4 linked regions of the Homo sapiens genome follow. The protein of the gene in region 2 interacts with the protein of the main gene of each other region in a pairwise test. Each region holds a gene or a part of one and is shown on either strand. Other genes may lie near its edges. The genes, in order: CTNNA3, ORC2, MCM10 and RAD18.

Evidence for each region.
Region 1: the proteins of ORC2 (region 2) and CTNNA3 interact in binary tests that used the Homo sapiens proteins (3 or more experiments, as listed by UniProt).
Region 3: the proteins of ORC2 (region 2) and MCM10 interact in binary tests that used the Homo sapiens proteins (3 or more experiments, as listed by UniProt).
Region 4: the proteins of ORC2 (region 2) and RAD18 interact in binary tests that used the Homo sapiens proteins (3 or more experiments, as listed by UniProt).

Annotation. Positions count from the first base shown.
Region 1 is NC_000010.11:67,693,149-67,701,096, forward strand, and holds the start of CTNNA3 (catenin alpha-3), read right to left. Parts: upstream 3,048-7,948; 5' UTR 2,852-3,047; intron 1-2,851. UniProt on the Homo sapiens protein: May be involved in formation of stretch-resistant cell-cell adhesion complexes.
Region 2 is NC_000002.12:200,908,477-200,911,660, forward strand, and holds the end of ORC2 (origin recognition complex subunit 2), read right to left. Parts: intron 2,912-3,184; coding exon 2,825-2,911; 3' UTR 501-2,824; downstream 1-500. UniProt on the Homo sapiens protein: Component of the origin recognition complex (ORC) that binds origins of replication. DNA-binding is ATP-dependent. The specific DNA sequences that define origins of replication have not been identified yet.
Region 3 is NC_000010.11:13,157,299-13,164,603, forward strand, and holds the start of MCM10 (protein MCM10 homolog), read left to right. Parts: upstream 1-4,259; 5' UTR 4,260-4,308; exon of another isoform or gene 4,309-4,927; intron 4,928-6,829; 5' UTR 6,830-6,904; coding exon 6,905-6,911; intron 6,912-7,305. UniProt on the Homo sapiens protein: Acts as a replication initiation factor that brings together the MCM2-7 helicase and the DNA polymerase alpha/primase complex in order to initiate DNA replication. Additionally, plays a role in preventing DNA damage during replication.
Region 4 is NC_000003.12:8,953,437-8,960,483, forward strand, and holds part of RAD18 (E3 ubiquitin-protein ligase RAD18), read right to left. Parts: intron 5,566-7,047; coding exon 5,484-5,565; intron 1-5,483. UniProt on the Homo sapiens protein: E3 ubiquitin-protein ligase involved in postreplication repair of UV-damaged DNA. Postreplication repair functions in gap-filling of a daughter strand on replication of damaged DNA.

The sequences.
Region 1 (7,948 bases), on a different chromosome or scaffold from region 2:
CCCAGGCAAAAATAATGTGGTTAAAAACAGTATTTAAGCATGTGAAAAATCAGATGTATCGGCTAACAGTCCTGTTCACCTTCAAAAATTCTGCAGCCTCAATTATCTGTCACTTTCCATTAGATTTGCAACTTTGCTAAACTCCGGAGTTCCACCCCGCTGTACCATCTCACTTAAAATCCAGTATCCAAACAAGAATCAGAAAATCACACTTTTTAAATCTCTAGACTAGCATTCCCATGAGCCAATGATCCATAAATAAACACTATTTTCAAGTTTTCATTACAAAGCGCATAATTTCTCTTCAGGCCAGTTTGGGTTGCCAACTTCTCTTCTTAAATCTTAATCCCTTCTATTCCAAAAAAAATAGAAACATGCAAACAGAAGTTCATGGGGAATAGAGAATGAAACTCCCATCCTTCTGTAGCTATGGTTTTTCTCTAAATATTATTACTGAATAATAAAAACTTCACAATTTAAAAAGTTTTTTAATACAGGAAGAATATATTATTTGATAATTCATAACTCTACCTCTCACTTCACACCACATAATATTGATATCTCTAATCTCTCCACTTTGATTACTTGGGACCAGTAACCACTTCCAATAATTAGTTGTATTTATCACTAATTCCTTAGCTTTCTTCCTTCTACTCTATTTACACAACATGGTTCTCAAACTCAACAATGACAGAATTAAAACTTATCTTCTCTGACTCCTACCATAGCCACGCCTAATTCCATTCTCATGTTTTCCCTATAGAAAAACCCAATACTGAATTGCTCCTCTAGCATGTGCCCTCTATCCCTTTTCTTTCTAGTCTGTTGCCTACAGATTTTCTCCAAATACTTCTAATTTCTCCAAAGATTCACAATAAGTAAAGAATTTATTCTTCCTATTCCTATTTCTTTGTCACAGTTGTATCATAAAAGTCATATAAATCACTATGTCTACATGGTCTTCTAATAAAGTTACTTATACATTCTGTTATTTTCATGTGCAAAGTAACGTAAGTGATCAACAATACTATCTATCGGTTTCAGGCAGAGCTGAAGTATTTTCAACTCTGACATGTAGCTTTGTTGATATCTGTAAAAGTTTATTGAGTGGAAATTTTGTAGGTAGGAGAGATTCCATCCTTCTAAACACTAAGTATTTTGGTATCTATGTGCCTGATAACAATGTTTTGCACATCATAGACAATAAATATATCATTTGGTAGACTAGGAATTTTACAATGCTTTAAAAGAATAACAGTAAAAACACATCTTAAATATCACAACTTTTACCTTCAAACATAGTGTTCTCTAATCCAACACTTCTACAGTTAGAAACAGAGATTAAGGAAATTATCTTAAACATATCTACAACATACATATACACATAAGTAAATAAATACACAAAGATGTTTACCATAGCATCTAGATGTTCAGCAATGATTAATAAAATTATATTCATTCACTTGAACAAATGTTACACAAATTTAAAATAACACCACTGTAGAATAGGTAATATTCTGTGGAAAATGTTTTGGTATATGGTTAAATGAAAAAGCAAGGTTCCAAATTTTATCTATACTATTATTGCAATTATTTTTAAAGCCATCTAGAAAAAAAAAGACTAGAAGGAAACACATCAATGAAATTACAGGAAATATTTTTCTGTGCTTTCAAAATTCCTACGATGAACATTTAATGCTTTTATAATGAAAAAAAGTTTTACCAATCTTTACTCAAATAGGAAGATTTAGACTATGTGTAGGAGGTAACAAATGGGAATAACTTTGTCTATACTGTCTGTATTTTAGGTTTCTCCATTTAACAAACTTGTCCTATGGTTCTACTGAGATAATTTTTTATAATGGACAATGAAATTTTAATAGCACACTCAAATATGCCATTCAAATCTGACCATGGATAATCTGAATCTTCAAATCACAACTATTCTCAATATGTTGAGCTTTCAATCTGTCTAAAAAGCTAGCCACAAACCCAGAACCAATGCAAACTTGAAATCCTGCTTTTTCCACTTTGTTTTAAGCAAATCATTGCATTCTCACGTTATCTCCAGAGATCTTAGTAGGCACATATCAGTGACTCAAAACCTCTACAGTAAATGAACTTTCTGATGTCTAACCCCAATTTCTTCTTGTTTCCATTTGAACTCATTTCTTTTATTTGTCTTCCGTGTAACTGACAGCAGCTGCTCACAATCATTCAGATCCCATTAGATAGTGACCTTTTCTTTACATGATTGATCATTACATCTCATGATCATTCCATACAGTGATTTTCATTTGACTATAACTGGTCATCAAACAGTTCTGAGAGCATTCCTCAACCTCTTAATATTCCTTCCAATTATAAAACAAATAGACATTAAATTCAGAAATTAATGCTTTTTGCCATTATCTCACTTGAAACATCTTCCATTTACTATGAATTAGCTTTTGGTTGAAAGTAAAATCCCTTCAAACATATTCCATCTTTGCTTCCTTTTCCCCACTCCCATGCCAAAGCACAAGCATCCAGGCCATATCTTATCTTTTCCTGCACAGTATCCAATCGGCTTTTTATAGCCAGAAACTCTCTGAATGCAAAGCACGACCTTGGCTACCAGCTTCCCCTGGCAATAGTTCGAAAGTTATTTATAACTTTAAAATTAGCGTGAAAGCCTACGTTTCTCATAACTAGTCAAAACATTCCTATTTCATACAATAATGTGATCTTCCTCAGTTCAGAAGAAAACCCCAAATTTTAAACCTATGATTATAACTAAGACACAGGAATTCAATGCAGAAATGAGAATTCGCTGAAGTTCAGCTCTTCTCTTTACAAACTTGATTCTTACCTTTCTGTTTCTTCCTATAAAGTAAATGGGCTTAAAATTCAGCTCCCGTAGGGAATTTTCCAAAAAGAGCTTTGTGGGGGACGGAAAAAGGCTTCTTGGTGGTCACAGAGTTACAGAGTACCAAATTGAGAGGCAGATGACAGTGGGGCAGTCAATTTCGCTGAGCGTTGTTCACCCAGGATAAGAAAGAAAGGGGAGGTTACAAGCCAGGGTGGGTGGTATCTAATCCTGAACCGCTAGTCACTGACCTCACTGACAACTTGTTACTGAAAATACTTCGTTGAAAAAGGCCAGACACATACTTTGCCTAGAGACCTACAAACATAGCTCTGAATAAGTTTAGATTTGCATTTCTCTAGTTCCTTTCCAAAAGAAGAACCTCTTCTATCTAATTAAAGCCAAAGGCTGGAATTATTGAAAGTGAAAAATGATAAAGCAGGGAAAACAAGAGTCCAGGAAATCCTCACATCAAAAGATCAATTATGTAAAATTCAATGTCTTCAGAACCCTAGAGATGATGGCATCAAGGCCATGTGTCACATCTGAGATCGTATTTTTCTTCTTCTGAAATATTACCTGTCTCATCCCTTGTACCAAGCATCACACTCTCTCCTTCCAGTATTTATGAGGAACCACATCATTATCAGTAAAGAATCTAAACTGAAGATTTACCAAAAACTCAATAGGTTAACCCATTATTAAATTTAAGCCACCAAAAAAAAAAGTCTTCTCCACCAAAATTTATTTTTTCTCTCTATGACTATTCTTTTTCACATTTCCTTTTCCCTTTTTTTTGATATCTTCTCCCTCAATATCTTCACATCCACTGAAACAATCTTTATCATTTCATCAATTCCTTGACATCCCACTCGAACTTCTGTGGCATTTCCTTGGACATTACCATTTTTCCGACTTTCTTCTAATAGCTTCTAAAACAAGAGGTGCTAACTAAAATATGAACTACTTGTTTGAGTTTTGGCAGTCCTGTTCTTAAAAGGCTGAATTCAAAATAAAAAGAAAGCATTTATTTATTGGCTCTCCAGATACTCTTAGCACAAATTTCAGGGAGCCAAGAGGAAAGGCAGGGTCTGGGAACTGTCAGAGAATCAACTATGAAAGGAGTTCATTTTATATGATTTTCAGGATAGCCTTCAAAACAACTGTATTTTTATGTAGCTACCTTTAAAATGGGCATAATTGACAATATATTTATCTAAAGATTCTTAGTTGCTAACATGCTATCCTCCCCAGATTTTTTTAAAGCAGCTTTTTCCCCCTGGAGAATCTAGGAATAGCATCTTTTCACAGTGAAACAAAGAGTAAGTTTTATGTCTCTCAATCCATCTTTTCTTGAATAAAGAAATCACTTGACACTTGCAAAATAGCAGGTTTTGTTTTAGAGCTTTAATAATGAATGTTTTCCAAACCAGGACTGTTGAATTGAGCCCAAGATGAGATATCCAAATTCTATCATAAGCCTAGCTTGTCCTGCTGTGAAACCACAATAAGTTACTTACCTGCCCTGTACCTCTCCTTTCCACCTACAAAATGTAGATGAGAACTCTTATTCTTTTCATTTGCTTTTCAGAGGATATGTGAATTAAATGGATAAAAGCTGAAGAGCTTTAAATTACACTGAACTCTTCAGAGATGCAATACAGATAAAACCTTCTTACAGAATTTGGTGTTATCAAAACAATTAAATATTATAAATATCTGAAATGTAATTTTAAAGAGCTTTTATAGTGGGTTTTTTTTTAATTCCTTCATAAAAATATCTGCAGCCTCCAAGGTAGTATTTAGCTGAAGTATTTCCCACTATAGCCACAAGAGGTCCCCTCCTAGCAATTCAAATCACGTTGGATTTGTTGATCACAGGCCCCATGGTCCTCTGTATTTGTATCAGTTTGCTGACAGAAAACATATATCACCTATGTCAAATTTCCATAGCTAACTATAGGGTAGGAGACAAAAGCAGAGAAATCTGCCTTTCTCTGTGTGATCGCTGAGGCATGCTGGAGGCTAAATAGTTCCTGTAAACTACACAGCCCCTGCATTTTGCATCCTGGCCCTCTTCCAGATTTTCACAGTAGTTCTTTCTTGTCACCTTGCCCAGTCTTGTTCAGTATTTATTCTCCTTCCCTATTTACTTGTTTCCTTTCTTTATACTTTGCAAACTTTAAAATTTTGGCTCACATGCCTCTTGCAAGCAATCAAACATTGAGGGTAGAAGAGCTGGGGAAAAAAAAAAGAGAGAAAAAAGAGAGAGAATAAATCAGGGCCATTACTAGCAATTCTCCCGAGGTAATCAAAAGTAAGTTTTTTCGTTCTGGGCATCAGGACCGGCCCCAAACAAAGTCATTCAATTGGATGTATTGAGAAGCCCCTTGATGCAGAGCCCTGTGTTAGGCGCCAGCTAGAAGATTACAGGAGAGAAGGGAGGCCTCCAAAAAGAAGATAATTCTATCCCTGTCAGTAGCCTCTCTTGGAAAATAAATCCTCCAGGGTGCAATATGTTCTTTAGTCAGAATGGAGTAGTTTCTTCTTGTCAATAAAATCCCTTATAGAATGAAAATCACTTTTGCATGAACCATGAGTCCATTTCATCTGTCCATAATATCTCAAAATACTGGCAATTTCAGGTTCGGGCTTTAAAAATATGTAATTTTCTGAACAGCCATAATACCTTTCTAAAATGAGATTTAAAGCTAGGAATAATCCCTGTTTGTGATAATTAAAACCATTTTTTTCAAAAATATGTGATAAATACTTCTGGCACCTTGTCAGGTATTTTAGGTGAATCTAAATGAATCTGCCCCTGATTTGAAGGTCTTATGTACTATTAATACAAAAAAAAAAAATGTTTCTCACTCTCCCTTCCCAACCATCCTTATTATTAGCAGCTAACCAACTCTCCTGCCTCACTAAGAAGAACAGAAGCCATCTGGAAGATGTTTCACATCTTTCCATCATCAAATCTATAAACCCACTAACACCGAGCCTCATCTTCTCTACCCTCCCTCCTATTAAAATGCAAGAAGTCCTCTTGCTCTTACCAAAGGCTAATCTCTCTTGTGTGCTGGATCCCTTCTTCCCTCACCTTTTCAAGGACTCTGCTCCTTCACGATCACCTCACACACTGCATTATCACCCTTTCTCCAATGATCAGTGCAAAAATATGCCACAGGACTTCTACCTGAAAATTTTCAAACAAACAAAACATACTTTTACCCTACAACTCCCTGTGGTTGCTACTTAGTTCTCTGTGCCTTCATCATAATACTTCCCAAATGAGTTGTCCACCACCCCTATGTTTTTACCTCTCACTTCACAACCCACTAAGATGATTTATTTCCCCTTCACTCCCAAAAGGGTCATTTTTAAGTCTATCAACAACCTCCAGGTGGCCAAACCATTCTGTCACCTGAGGGGATAACACATCCTAACCTATGGCTTCAAATGAGATCTTTAAATGACATAGGATATTGAGTGGGACTTCTCCTGTTGCCAATAATTGGTGACTATGGCTCAAAATGAAAGACAATGAAGCCACCCAGGTACACGCTAAGGAATTTCCAGTATTTGAGGATAGACATTTCACTCAGGGATTACTAAGAAGCAGTTAAGAAAAGAGAAGGTGGAGCCAAGATGGCTGAATAGGAACAGCTCCGGTCTACAGCTCCCAGCATGAGCGACGCAGAAGACGGGTGATTTCTGCATTTCCATCTGAGGTACCAGGTTCATCTCACTAGGGAGTGCCAGACAGTGGGCGCAGGACAGTGGGTGCAGTGCACCGTTCGCGAGCCGAAGTCGGGCAAGCCACTGCCTCACTCGGAAAGAACAACGGGTCGGGGAGTTCCCTTTCCTAGTCAAAGAAAGGGGTGACAGACGGCACCTGGAAAATCGGGTCACTCCCACCCTAATACTGCGCTTTTCCGATGGGCTTAAAAGACAGCGCACCAGGAGATTATATCCCGCACATGCTTTGGAGGGTCCTATGCCCACAGAGTCTCACTGATTGCTAGCACAGCAGTCTGAGATCAAACTGCAAGGCAGCAGCGAGGCTGGGGGAGGGGCGCCCGCCATTGCCCAGGCTTGCTTAGGTAAACAAAGCAGCCAGGAAGCTCGAAATGGGTGGAGCCCACCACAGCTCAAGGAGGCCTGCCTGCCTCTGTAGGCTCCACCTCTGGGGGCAGGGCACAGACAAACAAAAAGACAGCAGTAACCTCTGCAGACTTAAGTGTACCTGTCTGACAGCTTTGAAGAGAGCAGTGGTTCTCCCAGCACGCAGCTGCAGATCTGAGAATGGGCAGACTGCCTCCTCAAGTGGGTCCCTGACCCCTTGACCCCCGAGCAGCCTAACTGGGAGGCACCCCCCAGTAGGGGCAGACTGACACCTCACACGGCCAGGTACTCCTCTGAGACAAAACTTGCAGAGGAACGATCAGACAGCAGCATTCACGGTTCACGAAAATCCGCTGTTTTGCAATCTCCGCTGCTGATATCCAGCAAACAGGGTCTGGAGTGGACCTCTAGCAAACTCCAACAGACCTGCAGCTGAGGGTCCTGAATGTTAGAAGGAAAACTAACAAACAGAAAGGACATCCACACCAAAAACCCATCTGTACATCACCATCATCAAACACCAAAAGTAGATAAAACCACAAAGATGGGGAAAAAACAGAGCAGAAAAACTGGAAACTCTAAAAAGCAGAGCGCCTCTCCTCCTCCAAAGGAACGCAGCTCCTCACCAGCAACGGAACAAAGCTGGACGGAGAATGACTTTGACGAGTTGAGAGAAGAAGGCTTCAGACGATCAAACTACTGCGAACTACAGGAGGAAATTCAAACCAAAGGCAAAGAAGTTGAAAACTTTGAAAAAAATTTAGACGAATATATAACTAGAATAACCAATACAGAGAAGTGCTTAAAGGAGCTGATGGAGCTGAAAGCCAAGGCTCGAGAACTACGTGAAGAACGCAGAAGCCTCAGGAGCCAATGCGATCAACTGGAAGAAAGTGTATCAGTGATGGAAGATGAAATGAATGAAATGAAGGGAGAAGGGAAGTTTAGAGAAGAAAGCATAAAAAGAAACGA
Region 2 (3,184 bases):
CCCAAAGTGCTGGGATTACAGGCGTGAGCCACCACGCCCGGCCTCCACTGATCTTTTATATGAGTGAAGTGATCATGTATTAAAATAACAAACAATGCTAAGAAAGTCCAGTTTCTGGACTACTGTGAGAACTAATTTAGCAGTCCTTGCACAATAAATTCAGCACTGTGGCAAATTTATAAACAATAAATGTTTGACATCTCCTGTGCCTTTTTTTTTTTTTTTTTTTGCAATTTTATTAAGAGTACCCAGAAAACCTTTCAAGGTTTCAGTAGATCTGTTCAATCTTGCCAGAAGCAAGTTAACACAGTAGAAGAAATTAGAGCCTTATCAGTCAAGACATAATTGCTAGAGCCTCAGGGACACCGATGCGGACACAAGTCAACAAACAGCATACAATAATGTGCCAAGATCTTCACCAGATCTGTAAGATGCACTCATAAAACTTCTTTTGAAGAACTTAAAAATATTTTTAGTAAAAAACCAGCACTACCAATTTATAAAGTGATTCTATCCAAATTGGCTTTTTATTTATTAATAATAAAGTCTACTGACACATACTGCTTGCAAATAGTATAGACACAAAAATTATAAAAATAAACCAGTAGATATTTAGGGCAGATGCAAAAATTTGCACATTAGGTCATTATAAACTAGATATATTAAGCAAAAAAAGCAAGGTGCAAACCAGCAAGTATGATATATTACCAATTGTGTTTTTAAAAGGAGAAAGACAGATACTTTTACATATGCATAGACGATATCTGGAAGAATACTTAAGAAAATGCTATCAGTGGTTGCCTAAAGAACTGGGTGGATCAGGGAGTGGGCAGGAAACTCACTTTCACTGAATATCCTTTGGTACTATTAAAAAAATTTTTTTAAATCACATTTATGTACAAATTTGTTTAAACATTTTGACTAGAGGTTATATTTAAGACTAAGCCCTTGGCCAGGCATAGTGGCTCACCCCTGATCCCAGTACTTTGGGAGGCCGAGGCAGGATCACTTGAGGTCAGGAATTCGAGACCAGCCTGGCCAACATGGTGAAACCCCATCTCTGCTAAAAATTCAAAAACTAGCCAGGCGTGGTGGCGTGTGCCTGTAGTCCCAGCTCAGGAGGCTGAGGCACAAGAATCACTTGAACCCAGGAGGTGGAGGCTGCTGTAAGCTTAGATCACGCCACTGCACTCTAGACTGGATGACAGTGCAATTCCATCTAAAAAAAAAAAAAAAAAAAAAAAGACTAAGCCCATGGACTTAACATAAAATTACTTTTTAAAAAAATGATTTAAAAAAAAAAAAAGACAAGGTCTTGCTCTGCACCCAGACTGAAGTGCAGTGGCACAATCATAGCTCACTGTAATCTTGAACCCCTGGGCTCAAGCGATCCTCCTGCCTCAGCCTCCACAGCAGCTAGGACTATAGGCATGGGCCACCATGCCCGGATGATTTTTTAAATTTTTTGTAGAGACAAGGTCTCACTATGTTGCCCAGGCTGTTCTTAAACTCCTGGGCTCCAGAGATCCTCCTGCCTTGGCCTCCCAAAGTGTTGTGATTACAGGCATAAGCCATTATGCCTGGCCAAAATTACTTAATTATATGCCACAAGAAAAATTATTTAAAAATTCCAAGGATTTTTGGAAATATTTTCATGAAAGAGGTTTACAAGATAAGAAATGAGTGAGAAATGCTGACGTAGTACGTATTTTATTGCAGTGATATTTTCAGGAAGAACTTCATTTCCAAGTGTCAAATATTTCAGGGGGTATGTGATGACTGTAAGCTGACAACAGTAGCCAAGGTGAGCCTTTTTTCTTTCCTAAGAAAAAAGTCTCGCGCAAATATTCAGGAGGTTTGAAATCATCACTTTAAGGAAAAAACTGAAATATCTTACAGTGAGTTTTAGGTCTACTTGACAGAGGAATCAAAATTAATTTACAGCCAGCCATTAATATGCTACTCACCTGCATGTTGTTCAAGAAAAGAAAAATATGTCAATATACAAGAATAATGAAATGTTTTATTTTTTGTTGTCTTGAAAACAATTACTAAAATGTAATTCAGGATTTTATTTCTCTAGCCTGGCTTCTCACTGGTATCATGAAGGTCATGGCACAGACAATAACTGTTCCAAATATATGACGTATTGTTCCTGTGCTTTCTAGGCTGGGTAGATACCCTATATACTCTGTTTTTCCCATTATCCCAACTGAATAGTATTATAATATATTCCCTCCCCTGCCCCCACCAAGTACATAGCCTCAATCCAAAAGGAGAAAGCTGGATCACTCACCTCTTCCCAATCTACACCTTTTAAGTTGTTTTAGAAACAATAAGAGATGACCTGCCCTCTCCATTACACTCGTTGGTTCTGACACACAGAATAGCAAACAAAACCAATTTACGTGATGCCCATGTCTTTATACTTCCACACTCTGGAACAAACACACTTGCAAACAATCAGCTCGGGGAGTGTTAAAAGGCCCTCAAAAAATTCAGAATATCTCTAAGTATAAAATAATTCAAAAACATCCAGTTCCAAATAGTCCCTGAGCACACTGTTCATTCCAGCAAGAAGTCTCCAGAGAGGTAATGAATGAAAGGCACATTTTCTCCAACTTGAGGACCGCTGCATAGTACTAGACGGTACCAGCCAGGCTGATCAAAAAGTTCTAATTGAGGACATCCCCCCCTTCCCAAATTTAAATCTTGTATGCTGGAAAAATAATTTAATGTCAGATGTAAACACAACACTTTCAACTAGAGGAGTGGCAGCTGGGGTACAACCCTTCCATGGGAGATTCAAGAATAAAGGAAAGCTTCAAGCCTCCTCTTCTTCCTTTTCCAAGAAATCAGTCAATGTTCCATTATCAACAGGAATTAATAAATACTCTACTCCATCAGTTCCCTGAAAGATTTAAGAATACCTGTACGTTAGTCATTCATAAGAGGTATATGAACTCTTCTATTGTAGAGGCTAAAGAAAAAATGAATTTATTTCTTGGATGTAATTTTTAAATATATAAGTATAAAAAGGCAAAAGGGCACACAGTCATATATACTTAAATATATGGAGTTATAGTTAAACATCCTTATAGTGGAAAAGACAACTAACTAGAGGGTGGGTAGGTGGGTATTTATTTTTTTCATTGTGCTTTAGATCATTCTTCACCTTCCTGCC
Region 3 (7,305 bases), on a different chromosome or scaffold from region 2:
CATACTCAGGTGAGGAAGAAAGCATTTAAAAAATGGACACCTTGCTGCCAAAATGGCACGATGAACAGGATAACAAGTTTCTTGAAATATGAAATCTGTATCAGTACGATACTTGTACTCATAAAGATCAGCCATATCTTTCTGCAATGTCCGGGCTTCCGGTCTAGCCAAACTGGCTTGTAGGGAAAGCTTCTTTAATGCTGACCTTCCCTCATATTCCTCCGCTAATGCATTGACATCTCTAATATCCCACCCAGAGAGGAGTTCTCGCATCTGCTTGGCATGATCGGCAGACCTATCAGATTTTCGAGGCTTAATTAAGTTCTTTTTGAAGGTAGCAGGGCCAGAGGTCTTTTTTTTTTTTTTTTTTTTTTTTTTTTTTTGAGACAGTCTGGCTTTGTCGCCCAGGCTGGAGTGCAGTGGCTCGATCTCGGCTCACTGCAAGCTCTGCCTCCCAGGTTCCCGCCATTCTCCTGCCTCAGCCTCCCGAGTAGCTGGGACTACAGGCGCCCGCCACCACGCCCGGCTAATTTTTTGTATTTTTTAGTAGAGACAGGGTTTCACCATATTAGCCAGGATGGTCTCGATCTCCTGACGTCGTGATCCGCCCGTCTCGGCCTCCCAAAGTGCTGGGATTACAGGCGTGAGCCACCGTGCCCGGCCTCTTTTTTTTGTCTTGTGGTTTCTCATGGCCATGGTCAAGGCTATACAATTTTGATTCACAACCATAGCCTTGCTGAGAATAGGATGACGTCCCTATAAAAGTCTGTTGGGCCTGTGAATTTCCCCCTACCTTCGCGGAACATGGATGAGGATAATGAGATGCATTAGCACCCATTTTCTTCAGTCATTCAGGCATTCCGTCTGCGGGTTCTTCAGAGTATAATCCTAGAGGCCATTAGGAACCTTCAACCCTGGATCCAGCAGCCTCTTTCCATCTATTTCTATGAGAACAGGGCCATTAGACCTTACTTTAGTGCATACTATTGAAGTATGAAAGGCTGTGGGCAGCCAGACACACGGACAGTGCATTCTGTAAGAACCACACAGCAAGCATCCTCAAGTGTTTACTATACAGTCTGCCCTTCGTATTCCGTAGGTTCCTCATCCACAGTTCAATCGACCTGGAGGCTCCTCCCGCCGCCGCTGCTGCTGCTGCCGCAGGGACCTCGGCCGTCGCCCCCGCCGCCTCCGCCACCAGCACCGCGGCAGGCACCGGCGCCAGCACACCGCCGCCATCCTCCTCCCACCGCCGCCGCCGCCCTCTCCTCTCCTGTCAGTGGCTCAGGCTCCGGGACTGCTCCAGTTTTCCCTCGCCGCCATTTTGATTCCTAGAGGGAGCAGGAAGGGCTCGGCTTGGACTTTTTGTGTTTTTTTTTGTTTTTTGTTTTTTTGAGGCGGAGTTTTGCTCTTGTTGCCTAGGCTGGAGTGCAGTGGCCGATCTCGGCCCACTGCAACCTCCGTCTTCCGGGTTCAAGCGATTCTACTGCCTCAGCCTCCCGCGTAGCTGGGATTACAAGCATGCGCCAATACTTCCGGTTCATTTTTGCATTTTTTTTAGTAGAGATGAGGTTTCACCATGTTGGCCAGACTGGTCTCGAACTCCTGACCTCAGGTGATCTGCCAGCTTCGGCCTCCCAAAGTCCTGGGATTACAGACATGAGCCACCGTGCCCGGCCCACTTTTAATACATTAAAGGGGTCTGTGATAAACATCCTCCTACCGCCCAAAAAAGGTTAAGGACCACTGCAATATGGGCTGTTTGCTTTAGATTTCATTTTAGATAGATGTTGATAACTGTCAGAGCTGTTCTTTTTTGGCCTTCGTTTGTATTCTAAGGAGAGTCCAGGCCTCTCCTTAGAACCCCAGATCTGGAGATCAAGCTGGCTACCGTGCCTTTCTTAATCAGCATCTCTCATACATCTCATTCTGAAATAGAAAACTAAATCTATCTTCTCCCCTAAACCTGTTCCGTTCTTCCTATGTCTCCTACTTCAGTGCACAACCTCAAAAACGACCCTATTGTATAAATCAGAAACCTAACAGTCATCCTAAACCTGTCTCCCCATCCCCTCTCTGCTTCCTTCTCGCTAATATCTCCACATTCAATGGATGTTTTAAAAATATAAACTCAAGATTTTATTGTCTTCATAATAAAAGAAAACATGACACTTAGAACTGGATCACTTGGCCGTTTCTCTTCTTACCTCCTCCCAGTTCAAAATGCTAGCATATTTTAATAGCCAGCACTCTCTTAGAGCTGCAGCTGGGCTCAACGCACTCAAGCCTTGGCACAATTTTCTGTAGTTTTAGCCCTTTCCTGGAAAATCGGCTTAATTTGCCCACGATAGCCACTCTGCTTCCTGTCATAACGCCGCTTTCCCTGGGCATACAGAGAATCCTTCTCCTTCGTGTACAGTGTCACTTTGTGGGGTTGGTGCTTGCCACACTTCTTATAGAAAGTCTGGCGGGTTTTAGGAAACTTCGTAATGTTTGTGTGAGCGCTATCGGCACGGAAAAGCCACATTCAATGGATTTTAAAAAATCTATTTGCCTAATTGTTTCTCAAAATCACCTCCACTTCTTTTCTCAAAGTCACCACTATACTAATTCCAATAAAAAGTGCTTGATTCTTCACTTAAGGAAGGTTTGCGGGCTTAGGTTGGTTCTGTTTCTGACTCCTTGCCCGGAACTGGATGCAAAGAGGACCTGGAAAGTGAAGGTGAAGAAAAGAACTTCAGAGTACTGATCAGAATTAGTCAAGGAATTTCTGCATAATGGCTAAGAATAAATCTATGACGAATCTTTTTTTTTTAATAACTAGATGTAGTGATGCATTTATTTATTTATTTATTTATTTATTTATTTATTTATTTAGACAGAGTCTGGCTCTGTCGCCAGGCTGGAGTGCAGTGGCGAGATCTCGGCTCATCACTGCAATCGCCACCTCCCAGGTTCAAGCGATTCTCCGCCTCAGCCTCCCAAGTAGCTGGGATTACAGACGCGCACCACTACGCCCAGCTAATTTTTGTGTTGTGTGTGTTTTTAGTAGAGATGGGGTTTCACCATGTTGGCCAGGCTGGTCTCGAACTCCTAACCTCGTGATCCACCCACCTCGGCCTCCCAAAGTGCTGGGATTACAGGGGTGAGCCACCGTGCCCGGCCTTAGTGCCGTATGTTTAAAAGTACGCATTTAAACATACTTTTTCAATTTGATTACTAGAGTTCCTCCATTACTATGAATTTTTAACACTAGCAGCTCTCAGAAATGGTTGTATTCCTATTCCTGAGCCAATATAGGTTTAAGTAATAGGGCTGAGCTCATAAATGGAGCAGTAATATTCCATTAGGACACAGAAAAAAGTCAACGTAGATGGCATCAGGACTGTTTATCTTCAGTCTTCCTAAAGTCGATTTTAATTGTTCTGAAAATGAAAGTACGTAGTGGATAGAGATAGGATCTTATACCAAAGGGATTATTAGTGGGGGAACTGCAGTGCCTGAACAGTGTCTGCAAGGAGGAAAAGGGGGGAAAGACTTAAAGTGGCCATTTGGTCCATCAAAGTCTCTTCTGCTATCAATCCCTTGAAATTATGTAAAAGCTAAATGTTATTCTGCATTTAGAAACTATGTTCTTAGTATTATGTACAAACACTATTTTTTAGAATGTAAATACATAAAGAGGCCTGAATTTTACTGAAAAAAAAATCTGTGAAAGATATGGTCTGCTGATAAGTTCTCTTCAGCCCTGACGCCCCTTAGAAGTCCCAAAATCTATGGAACAGGAATTACTCGGGAAATGGTGGTTTCAGTGTAAAAGATGTCATCTACCCTTTCCCTCACTGCACAGATGGTGAAGGGGAAACTCAGAGAGATAAGTCACTTCCCCAAGGTCAGACAGGGTAAAAGTGGACCGGATCTGTTTGGTCCTGAGCCCAAACATTTCGAATGGACATAAGGCTGACAAAGGAACAGTCGGTCCCAGAGCGTCAGGAGTTGAGGTGGGATGGGACCGCAGGGAAAATACTGGGTGGGATGACTTAAACTTCCCGGCACCAGGGGGCGCCAGACACTCTATTTTACCTAAAGGAGACTGGCTTCTACCGACAGGAAGGTCCCTTGCCCCCAACAAAGAGGGCGTCCAATGACGTAAACCAATCCGATTGCTCTGTGCCAGGGCCGGGATTCGCTGGCGTAGCCAGTCAGTGCTGCCCCACAGCCGCGTGCGTCTGACGTCAAGGCAGGGGCGGGATCCGGTTGGAATTTTGGCGGGTTCAGCTGTGAACGAAGAAGGCGTCCCGGCATCGGGTGAGGAGCGCGGGCCCCGGGCGTGCGTGTGACCCTCGGGCGGCGGGGCCGGGGCCGCCTCGCACGTCTCTGCGCGGGTTGCAAGGGGTCCGAGGCTAGAGGCGCGGGGTCCCGGGAGCTCGGGTGGGCGCGATCTGGATTTGGCGGCAGCTTGGGACCGCTCGGAGCTGGCATGGCCGGGCCGGGGGCTGGGAGTTGCTGGCCGTCTACTAAGGAATCGGGTTCTTCCTTTTAAACGCAGCCTTTTAAGTGCTTGCCAAGTGCCTGCCGCCTGGGCTTTCTTTTATTCATTCATTCATTCATTCATTCATTGGTTTCTCGTATTCATGATTTGCCAATGATTATTGAATGCGGACGGTGTGCATGGCTCGGATCACATTTCCGCTGCCTTCACAGCGCTTACAGTTTAAAGGCACGAGCAGGTAGTAAACAAATGCACGACAGTGGACGACTCAGGGTGGTCCAGAAAGTCTCAGAAAGATGAGTAAGTGGAGACCGAAGGGCGAGAAGGACCTGGGGGGAGCTTTCTTCGACAGAGCCTGAGACCTCAAAGCAGCTTAGTGTGTTCCAGAAGGTGGAAGCGGGCTGGCCCGGCTGGAGCATCGTTATGGGTGTCGGGGTGGGTAGAATTGGACGTGGTGGATTGTGGAAAATGTGAGGGAGTAGAAAGCTTGGAAAGAGAGAGAGAATATGAATCATTGCCTCGCAGGCTTTGTAGATTTTTTCTAAGGGCAATGGAAAATCATTAAAGAATTTCAATGAAGGGACCCCCATGATCTGATTTATGTTCCTAAAGGTTACTAAGGAAAGGGAAGATTACCGTGGCTGTCGTATGCAGAACAGATTGCACGGGGACAAAGAGACCAACATAGAAAGCTAACACAGTCATTGGGTTAAAGGTTGACGGTGGCTTGGCCTAGGGTTCTGGCAGTGAAGTTGGAGAGAAGTGGCAGATTTGAGCAGTGTTTTGGAGATGGGACCACAGTACTTGTCAGTGGCCGTGGATTTGAGGGCGAGGGAGGGTGCACAGTTTCATTTTGGGGGAAGGCAAGGCCGGTTACAGACTTGAACGAGACAGTTTGCTCCTAACGCTCAGGAAGCTTACTGTCCAATAGGTTCCCCAGTAGATAGCACAGTGTGTGGCACATGAGGGATCCGTGGAAATGTTGGTTGAATGAATTTTTAAAAAGCGGCCAGGCGCGGTGGCTCACGCCTGTAATCCCAGCGCTTTGGGAGGCCAAGGCGGACGGATCACCAGGTCAGGAGATCGAGACCATCCTGGCTAATACGGTGAAACCCCATCTCTACTAAAAATACAAAAAATTAGCCGGGCGTGGTGGCGGGCGCCTGTAGTCCCAGCTACTCGGGAGGCTGAGGCAGGAGAATGGCGTGAACCCGGGAGGCGGAGCTTGCAGTGAGCCAAGATCGCCCCATTGCACTCCAGCCTGGGTGACAGAGACTCCGTCTCAAAAAAAAAAAAAAGCACCTTTGGGAGTCCAAGGCTGATGGATCACTTGACATCAGGAGTTCAAGACCAGCCTGGGCAACATGGCGAAACCCTGTCTCTACAAAAAACACAAAAATTAGCCGGGTGTGGTAGTGCACGTTTGTAATCCCAGCTACTTGGGAGGCTGGGGCAGGAGAATCACTGGAGCCTGGGAGGCGGAGGTTGTAGTGAGCCAATAGCACCACTGCACTCCAGCCCCAGCGACAGAGCGAGATCCTGTCTAAAAAAAGAAAAGAAAGTACCATAATCACTGTAATTAGTTCCTTGACATTGAACTTGCCAAAGAGCACATGTAAGTTAAATAAGAGCCTAGAAAAATGTATACTTTCTTACTTGCAGTTTAAAAAATAACCTTAAATGAAAAGAGAAGTGCACAAAGTGATACAACTTTGTCTTAATTAGCTACGCTGTTTCTCTGTGCTTTGCTGACTAGTATTGAATCAAAATCCTGATTGTCACTAAGGCTCCACCTAAGTAGAATCATACAGTAAGCTGTCGTGGATAACGCAGATGTCAGGTGTATTACAGTGAATAAAATGAAAGAATAGCCTAATGTAGATCGACCCCAATAATTTGTGTGTGTGTGTGTGTAATTTTTAAAAAAGACAAGGTCTTGCTATGTGACCAGGCTGGTCTCAAACTTCTGGCCTCAAGTGATGCGCCCACCTTAGCTTCCCAAAGTGCTGGTATTACAGGCGTTGAGCCACTGTACCTAGCCAACCCCAATAGTTCTTCCTCATAATTTATCTCATCCACGTAATCTAGTGTGATTTACAAACTGCTCTGCAGCTCAATAACTTTCTGTAACCTTAAACACAAGTAAAAGTGAGCTGCTACATCCAAGGAAGGAGATGGCATTGGCGGTGTGGAGAGAGGAGGTGAGAAATGGTCAGATTCTGGATGAATTCTGAGGTTAGAGCCCATAGGAGTGGTAGGATTCTGGGTTTGTTGGATGTGTGTTGTGAGAGAAAGAGAAGAATTGAAAGTGACATTTCTAATATTGCTTTCACACAGCCAAGATTCTACATTGCTCATCTGGGCATCTGAGCCTCCTTCGAAGTTTCCTGTCACAACTGTCCTCTTGACAGCATGGATGGTAAGACCTGGCAGTTTTCTGTTACTCTGTTTCAAGGAAAACTAACCTTTTGTCCATGGACTTGTTATTTATTCTACCTGTAAAATGGTGAAAATGCTCCCCAGCCCTCAGGTATTGTCTTAGTGGTTCTGAAGCAATCTCACATCTCACAGAGGTCACTGAATGTTACTTGCTTTTATCAGGGGAGATTTCTTCTGGCAACAGAGATTGTCTTTCATAATTACAATAGCTGGTAGGTGTACAGTGGGCCAGGCACTGCTCCAAGATCCTTGTGGAAATTAACTGATTCAGTCCTCAGGCAAACGTATTTTATAGGCAGAAAAACAGGGATGTTTAGTAACTTGTCACAGTTCAAGCTGGCATAGCAGGGCTTTGAACCAGGCAGTCTGACTTC
Region 4 (7,047 bases), on a different chromosome or scaffold from region 2:
GGCTTAATTTCACTCTACTAGACTACTACCAAATATGTACTGGTAAGCTGCAGACCAGCATAATTTATTCTCTAGTGGGCAACTATGACAACCCTTCCATTCAAAGAAGAACAGCTGAAGAGTTTTGAATTCATGTATTCCCAGAGGGCTTCATTTAAATCACCTATGAAATTTGTCTTTCCATCCAAGAGAGCCCAAAAAAGATGTGTGGGCAGAGTGGAGGAAGGTACAATAACAACAATGAATTAAAGAGTAGTTTCACAGAAATATCCAAGCCTTGGGAGAGGGGGCATCTCTAATCCCAAGCAAGATCCTAGATAAAATAATTGGCTTGTGGACACTGATAAATTACCACTATTTTAAAGCTTGGCCAGCAATCTTTTTTTTTTTTCCTTTTGTGGATTTTGACTCAAAAAAAATTAATCAAAGCTTGTGTAGAAGTAAAAAGCAATTTTATTTCATTTTTTAAAACAAACTGAAATATGAAATGTTCCCCTTACGAAACCTTTGCTAATTCAAGAGACAACATAAGATTCTATTAGGCAAATAATAAACGTGTTTATCTTCTTTTATATTCTCATGAAGTAGCACTGTGAAACAAGGCAGAGGAGAAGAGAAATAGCTACACACACAAAAGGGAGATATAATTATGCAGAGCTGCACTTCTGGAAATTCTGAAATGCTAGTCTTTAGTTGGAGGGATGTTATTCTCTTACCAACTAACTGTCCCTTAACATTAGAACTGGAGGCAGATGCCAACCTTTTCAGCTTTCTTGGACCTCCTGTTCTTTTCACACTGGTTTTTGCTTTTAACTGGACACTTTAGATGTTTCTTTCTAAAAAGTTCCTTCTTTCATAAAGTCCTTAAGATTTCACATGACAAGGATTCATTTAAGTTTTAGAAATTTCCTTTTTACTATTAAGATGCTAGACTCTTTTGATGTTTGAAAGCCAGCCAATTGCTAAATATTTTGATCATCTTCCATTATGAAGTGAGAAAAATTATAGCAAGTGCAAAGAAAATTGGCACTTGGGCATATTAGTCTATTAGCAAGACCATTTCTCACTTAATGGTGTTTTATGGGTTGGAGTAAGTCTGCTCCCTCTCGCCCCCAAAATACTCTTTAATAGCACAAATTTGGATCAATTTAATTGACCTGCATTCTGCCAAGGCACCCCACTCACACCTTTGTACCTGCAGAACTACAAATGTAGTGTTTATTACTCATATCCAAAAACCTAAACAGAACAAAACAAAATAAAGTGATTTAAAAATGATAAATCATGAAAAATCTAAGAAGCAACAATAAATACCTAGGATTCTGGATCACCAATTCTAGTCAATCCAAGATGATACCAGAACATGACAGACCTGGCTTCCACTACAGCCCTGGGGGTTTTGTGTCATTAAAACACTAAAGACCCAGAGCAAATTTTAGACATGACGGGACTTGTGACAACTGGTGTTTAGTAGAAGAGGCCTACTGAATACTGAGACTTCACAAGTGAAAAAAAAGTGCTCATAAAATAAAAAATCATCATTACTGAAACTTCCCTCCACTGACTTCCTCTTAAAGAATGGCATAAGTGACAGCTATAAGTCATGAAGAAGTGAGCAAACAACATGTATCCCTAGGGAGAGAAACAGAAGACTAGCACTTACATTGCGGGGGCTACTTGAGAAACTGGTTTCTGAGCTGCCTGAATCTATACACTGACAGAAAAGGGAACCAGGTTGAGGGCCACTGAGAACAAAAGCAAAGGTCTGGACTAGTACCACACTCACTGGCCAGTGTGCCTCCCCCAGGCTCAGCAAGGAAGAGAAACCCCCAACTTTCTGCCTGGGGAGAGAAAGAAGGGAAACACGGTCCAATGTTCTAGCTTTTCCAAGAGCTGGCCAGAGGACTGGCTTCTGTCTCACCCCACTAAGCATGAACCCTGCATGTTCTAGGTGACTGGGGACTGCTAAGAATAAAAAAAAGCTGGGTTGCTTGCTACTGATCCACAGGACCCATAGAGCAGACAGAGGCTGATATAGCTCTGCGGCTTATCTTGGGAGGGGAGGCTGGGAGAGAATAGTGGAGTGTGTGACCAACATTTGAACTTTTCAAAGGACTGCCTAAGGGAATGGTTTCTGTCTCACTCAACTTGGGGTGCTTTGGATCAGCATACTTTAGATGCTTGAGGGCAGCTGAAAACAAAAAAAGAGGCTGATGGCTTACAGCAACTCTGGAGAACCTGCAATACCATGGACAGACACATGAGAGAGAAAAACAGCAGCTAATGAAAAAACTGACCAAATCTCTCGGCTTGGAAATTTATAATCACAAGTCCAGGGAAGACACATCCACAGAAAAGGCTTACGAAGCCCCTAGAATCTGCAGTCAAGCTGACTAGTAAAGATCTTTCTCTATATGGTAGTGCCCCCTTATACACAGGCGAGACATTCCATAAAGCGCAGTGGATGCCTAAAACCACAGGTAGTACTGAATCCTATTTATACTATGTTTTTTCCTATACATACTTACCTATGATAAAGTTTAATTTATTAATAAGACACAGTAAGAGATTAGGAACAATAACAATAACATAGAATTAAAACAATATACTATAACAAAAGTTATGTAAATGTGGTCTTTCTCTCAAAATATCTTGTGCTGTACTGTAGATGGTACTGTAGATCTTAGCAACCTCAGCATACAATTTTCTTTCCTTTCCTTGTTAAGAACTTTCACCTTTTCACTTAAAGGAAGCATTTTATGGTTTCTCTTTGTCATATCCGAATTGCCAGCATCATTACTCTTGTGCTTTGGGGCTACTATTAAGTAAAATAAGCGCTACTTGACACAATTACTGTGTTCTGCAACACAGTGACAATTACTGCCATGCTGCAACAGTCAATCTGGTAACCAGGATGGTCACTAAACGATTAACGGTAGATAGCATATGTAACATCAACACACTTGACAAAGGGATGATTCCCATCCTGGGCAGGACGGCACAAGATTTCATCAGTGCTTTACTTAGAACAGAGTGCAATTTAAAACTTATGAATTATTTATTTCCAGAATTTCCCATTTAGTATTTTCAGAATGCAGTTGACCACAGGTAACTGAAATCACAGATAAGGGGGGACTACAGTACAAAGCCAGTCTGTAACAAAGCCACTGTGAGGGAGTGAGGCCCTGTCTCCCAAACAAAACAAAACAAAAACAACGTTATTAGCTATGTCACAAAATAAAGGAAGAAAATCATATGAGCATCTCCATAACTGCAGAAAATACTTGACAAAATTCAACACCCATTCATGATTTAAAAAAAAAAATCCTCTCGCCTAACCAGGGGTAGAGAAGTGCCTCAACTTGGTAGGTTTATGAAAACATATTAAGAATATAAAAAAAACTTACAGCTAACATCATACTTAATGGTAAAAGACTGAATGCTTTCCCCAAAAAATTAAGAGTAAGGACAGGATGTCCCTCCACACCACTTTCAACACTGTAGTTGAGGTACCAGCCTGTGTAACAAAAAGAAACATAAAGGCATATAGATCAGAAAGGAATGAGTAAAACTGTCTTTATCCACAAATGACATGATTGTGTATGCAAAAATTTCTAAGGAATCAACAAAAAAGATGCTGGAATTAAAGTGAATTTACTGCAGTCAGAAGACGAAAGGTCAATATAAGTTATATTTCTTTGTGCAAGGTCTGTGCAATGAAAATCAAACAACACTGTTGAGAGAAATAAAGATAGAGAAGTGTATCATATTCATACACTGAAGACTCGGCATTGTTAAGATGTCAATTCTCCCAAATTGATCTCTAGATTCAATACAATTCCAGTGAACATCCCAGCAGGCTTTTGGTAGAAATTGACAACCTGATTTTAAGTTATACATGGAAATGCATTTAAAATGCAACGATCCTAAAAAAAACGAAGAAAAAAAAGTTGGAGGACTTACAATGCCTGACTTCAAGACTTACTACAAAGCCACAGTAATCAAGATAGTGTGGTACTGGCACAAGGATAGACATATATGAGTCTAGCATATAAGCATTTTAAAATATTGTACCTTGAGGTATTTACTGCAATAGGGGTTATCCTATCATTGTTCAGGAGTTAGACAAACAGTTTACAGATTATTTAGGTTCATGCTCTTTCCTGTTCTCTATTTTCAAGTTGATTTATCTTGGAAAGCTAAAGCAACAGTAAACTTAGGCCTAAACAATTGGTTTTAGTGGGCAGTAGTTTTGGTGAAAAACTACTAAGTTTCTAAGATCAATGGAATAGAAGAGTCCAGAAATAGACTACAGATGGCTAGCTGAGGTCATACTGACTGAGATGGGGAGAAATTTATCAGATAATGAAAATGTTCAGTATCTTAATTGCAGTAGTAACACAGCATACACATTTGTCAAAATTCATGAACACTTTTATACCTTAATGTGCACTTAAAATGGATGTATTTTATTGTATGTAAATTACACCCAAATAAAGATGATGTTAAAATATATTTTAAAACAATCTCCAAAACTTATCTTGGTTTTTAATGTGAATCTTGTCTGGAAGAAAACTAACATTGTTAAGGACTCATAATGTGCCGGACAGTGAGTTCTGCACATTTAATTCTCACAAACATTTTCTAAAGTAGTAAATTCTCACCCGATTTTCAAGAGTCAAGCCCAAGGGCATCTGCAATGCCCGTGCTGCCGTCACTGCTACCCTCTTACTATGTCTTCTCCACAGAAACTTTTCCACCAAAGCTACTACCAACTAAAACCAATTTCTTAGGCCTAAGTTGACTGTTTTTAACTTTCCAAGATAAATCAACTTGAAAATAGAGGACAAGAAAGATCATGAACCTGAATAACCCATAAACTGTATGTCTAGCTCCTCAACAATGATAGGGTAACCCCTATGCACTAAATATCTTAAGGTACGATATTTTTAAATGCTTATATACTAGACTCTTAAAGAGAAGTACAAACAAATTCCAACATGAGTCTTTCCAGCGTCACATAGCAGTTAAGGTATAAAACTGTCTGTAATAAAGTCAGTGGTAGAATTCTCCCACTGGGGCAATATTCTTATTGTTACAGATTTTTAAACTTTGAAATTCTATATCAAGTACTACTTGGTGGAACCACCTATCTGTTATCCTGTTAAAAACAAAAATTCTGAAACTTAACGTCAAAAAACACTTGGCAAATAAAGAACCACTTATTGTGACCAAAAATTTTACTGCCATAAATGCTATAAGAATCATAAAAATATCAAAGAGGAACGAGGTAGAAAATATAGAAGCCTTGTAAAAACCTTCAATATTCAAGAGGAAGGCAGTGAAAAAGACCTTCTGAAAAACTACAAGATAGAAGAGCTAAAGGTGAAACATAAATATGTGCACATATCTTTGGTGTTAAATTAACACTACCTCATGTAAAAATCGCAATTTACTAACTCACAGGAACAAAACATACTTACAGTTATGTGAACACTGAGGTATTATCATTGCAATGTTGAAATACTCGAAGCAAATTCCACACCGCAGCAAATCATCTATTGTCTGAAATGCAAATATGCATATATACATATCAGAAAGACATCAAAATTGGAAGTCCTGTCACAAAACTTTTTCTCTATCCCCTAAAAAAAAAATCAAACTCTTTGTCAAATACACAAATTCAAAAGCTAACTCCAGATAAACTGCAAGGGATCTTGACAAATAAATAAAAACTTCTCTCATATGACTCTTATACATTCAGTCTCAGGTTGCCCAAATTGCTTTAGACAGCTAAAGATGATGGCACACCGATTCTTGTGCCATATTGTCATCCCTTCACATAAGGGCTACTGTACTTCTGTTCCACTTCTAATGCGCTTCCAGCTCTTACTCCAAGCCTCCTCCTCTTCAGACTCCAACACCTAGCCTATAGTCACTATTGGGTGAAAGGTGGCCATTGCCACCACACAAGTTAAGAATCAAATCAAAGAATGTTAAAGCCAAACTCCAGAAACTGTCTAGTCAAAAGAGGAAACTGGTATCAAAAGCAGGCACACAATAGTAGGCATCAGTCAAGCCAAGACCAAAATTCCTGTCTCCCGTCTGGCAGTCCAGTGCTTTCGGCATGGTACTACACATGCAGCCAAATGAGGAAGCCTGGAAAGAGCTGGGGCAGTGAAAGCAGAGGAAGGGAAAGTGGACAACTTGGAAAGAGAGATGTGTGCCAACCTGGAATGCAATCCAAACAGGAACGGAACTACTCTGGCAACCTAAAATCTTTCAAATTGTTTAAAATAAAATATTATTCCATTCAACAGAAATATTTTTTAAAAGGAGGAAGCTCTCGACGGGAGGATCGCTTGAGTCCAGGAGGCGTAGGTTGCAGTGAGCCCACATCGCACCACTATACTCCAGCCTGCATGACCGAGTGAAACTGTCTCAAAAAAAAAAAAAAAAAAGAGGAAGCTCTCCATCATACTGATATGAAAAGATTGCCAAGATAAGTGAAAAAAGGAAATAAGGTATAGACAGTACATATACTATGCTACGGTTTGTTTAAAAGGAAGAGGTGAGTAAGAATGTATTCTAATAGGCCTAGCATGGTGGCTCTGTAATCCTAGCACTTTGGGAGGCCAAGGCAGGAGAACTGCTTGAGTCCAGGAGTTTGAGACCAGCCTGGCAAAATAACAAAAATCCATGTCTATAAAAAATTTAAAAATTCGTTGGGAGTAGTGGCGCATGCCTGTAGTCCCAGCTACTCAGGAGGCTGAGGCGGAAGGATTGCTTTAGCCCAGGAGTTCAAGGCTGCAGTGAGCCGTGATTGCCACTGCATTCCAGTCTGGGCGACAGTGAGACCCTATCTCAAAAAAGAAAAAAAGGAAAAAAGAATGCATTCTATTTTCATTGTAAATGTAAATAATGAGAAGATAAACAAGAAGTCATAAATAATGATCAGGGCCAGGAACATGGTAAGAAGGAGACTTTTACTTTTTATTTTATGTGTATTTTGAACCATGTGAACCTATTACCTGAATTTTAAAAATG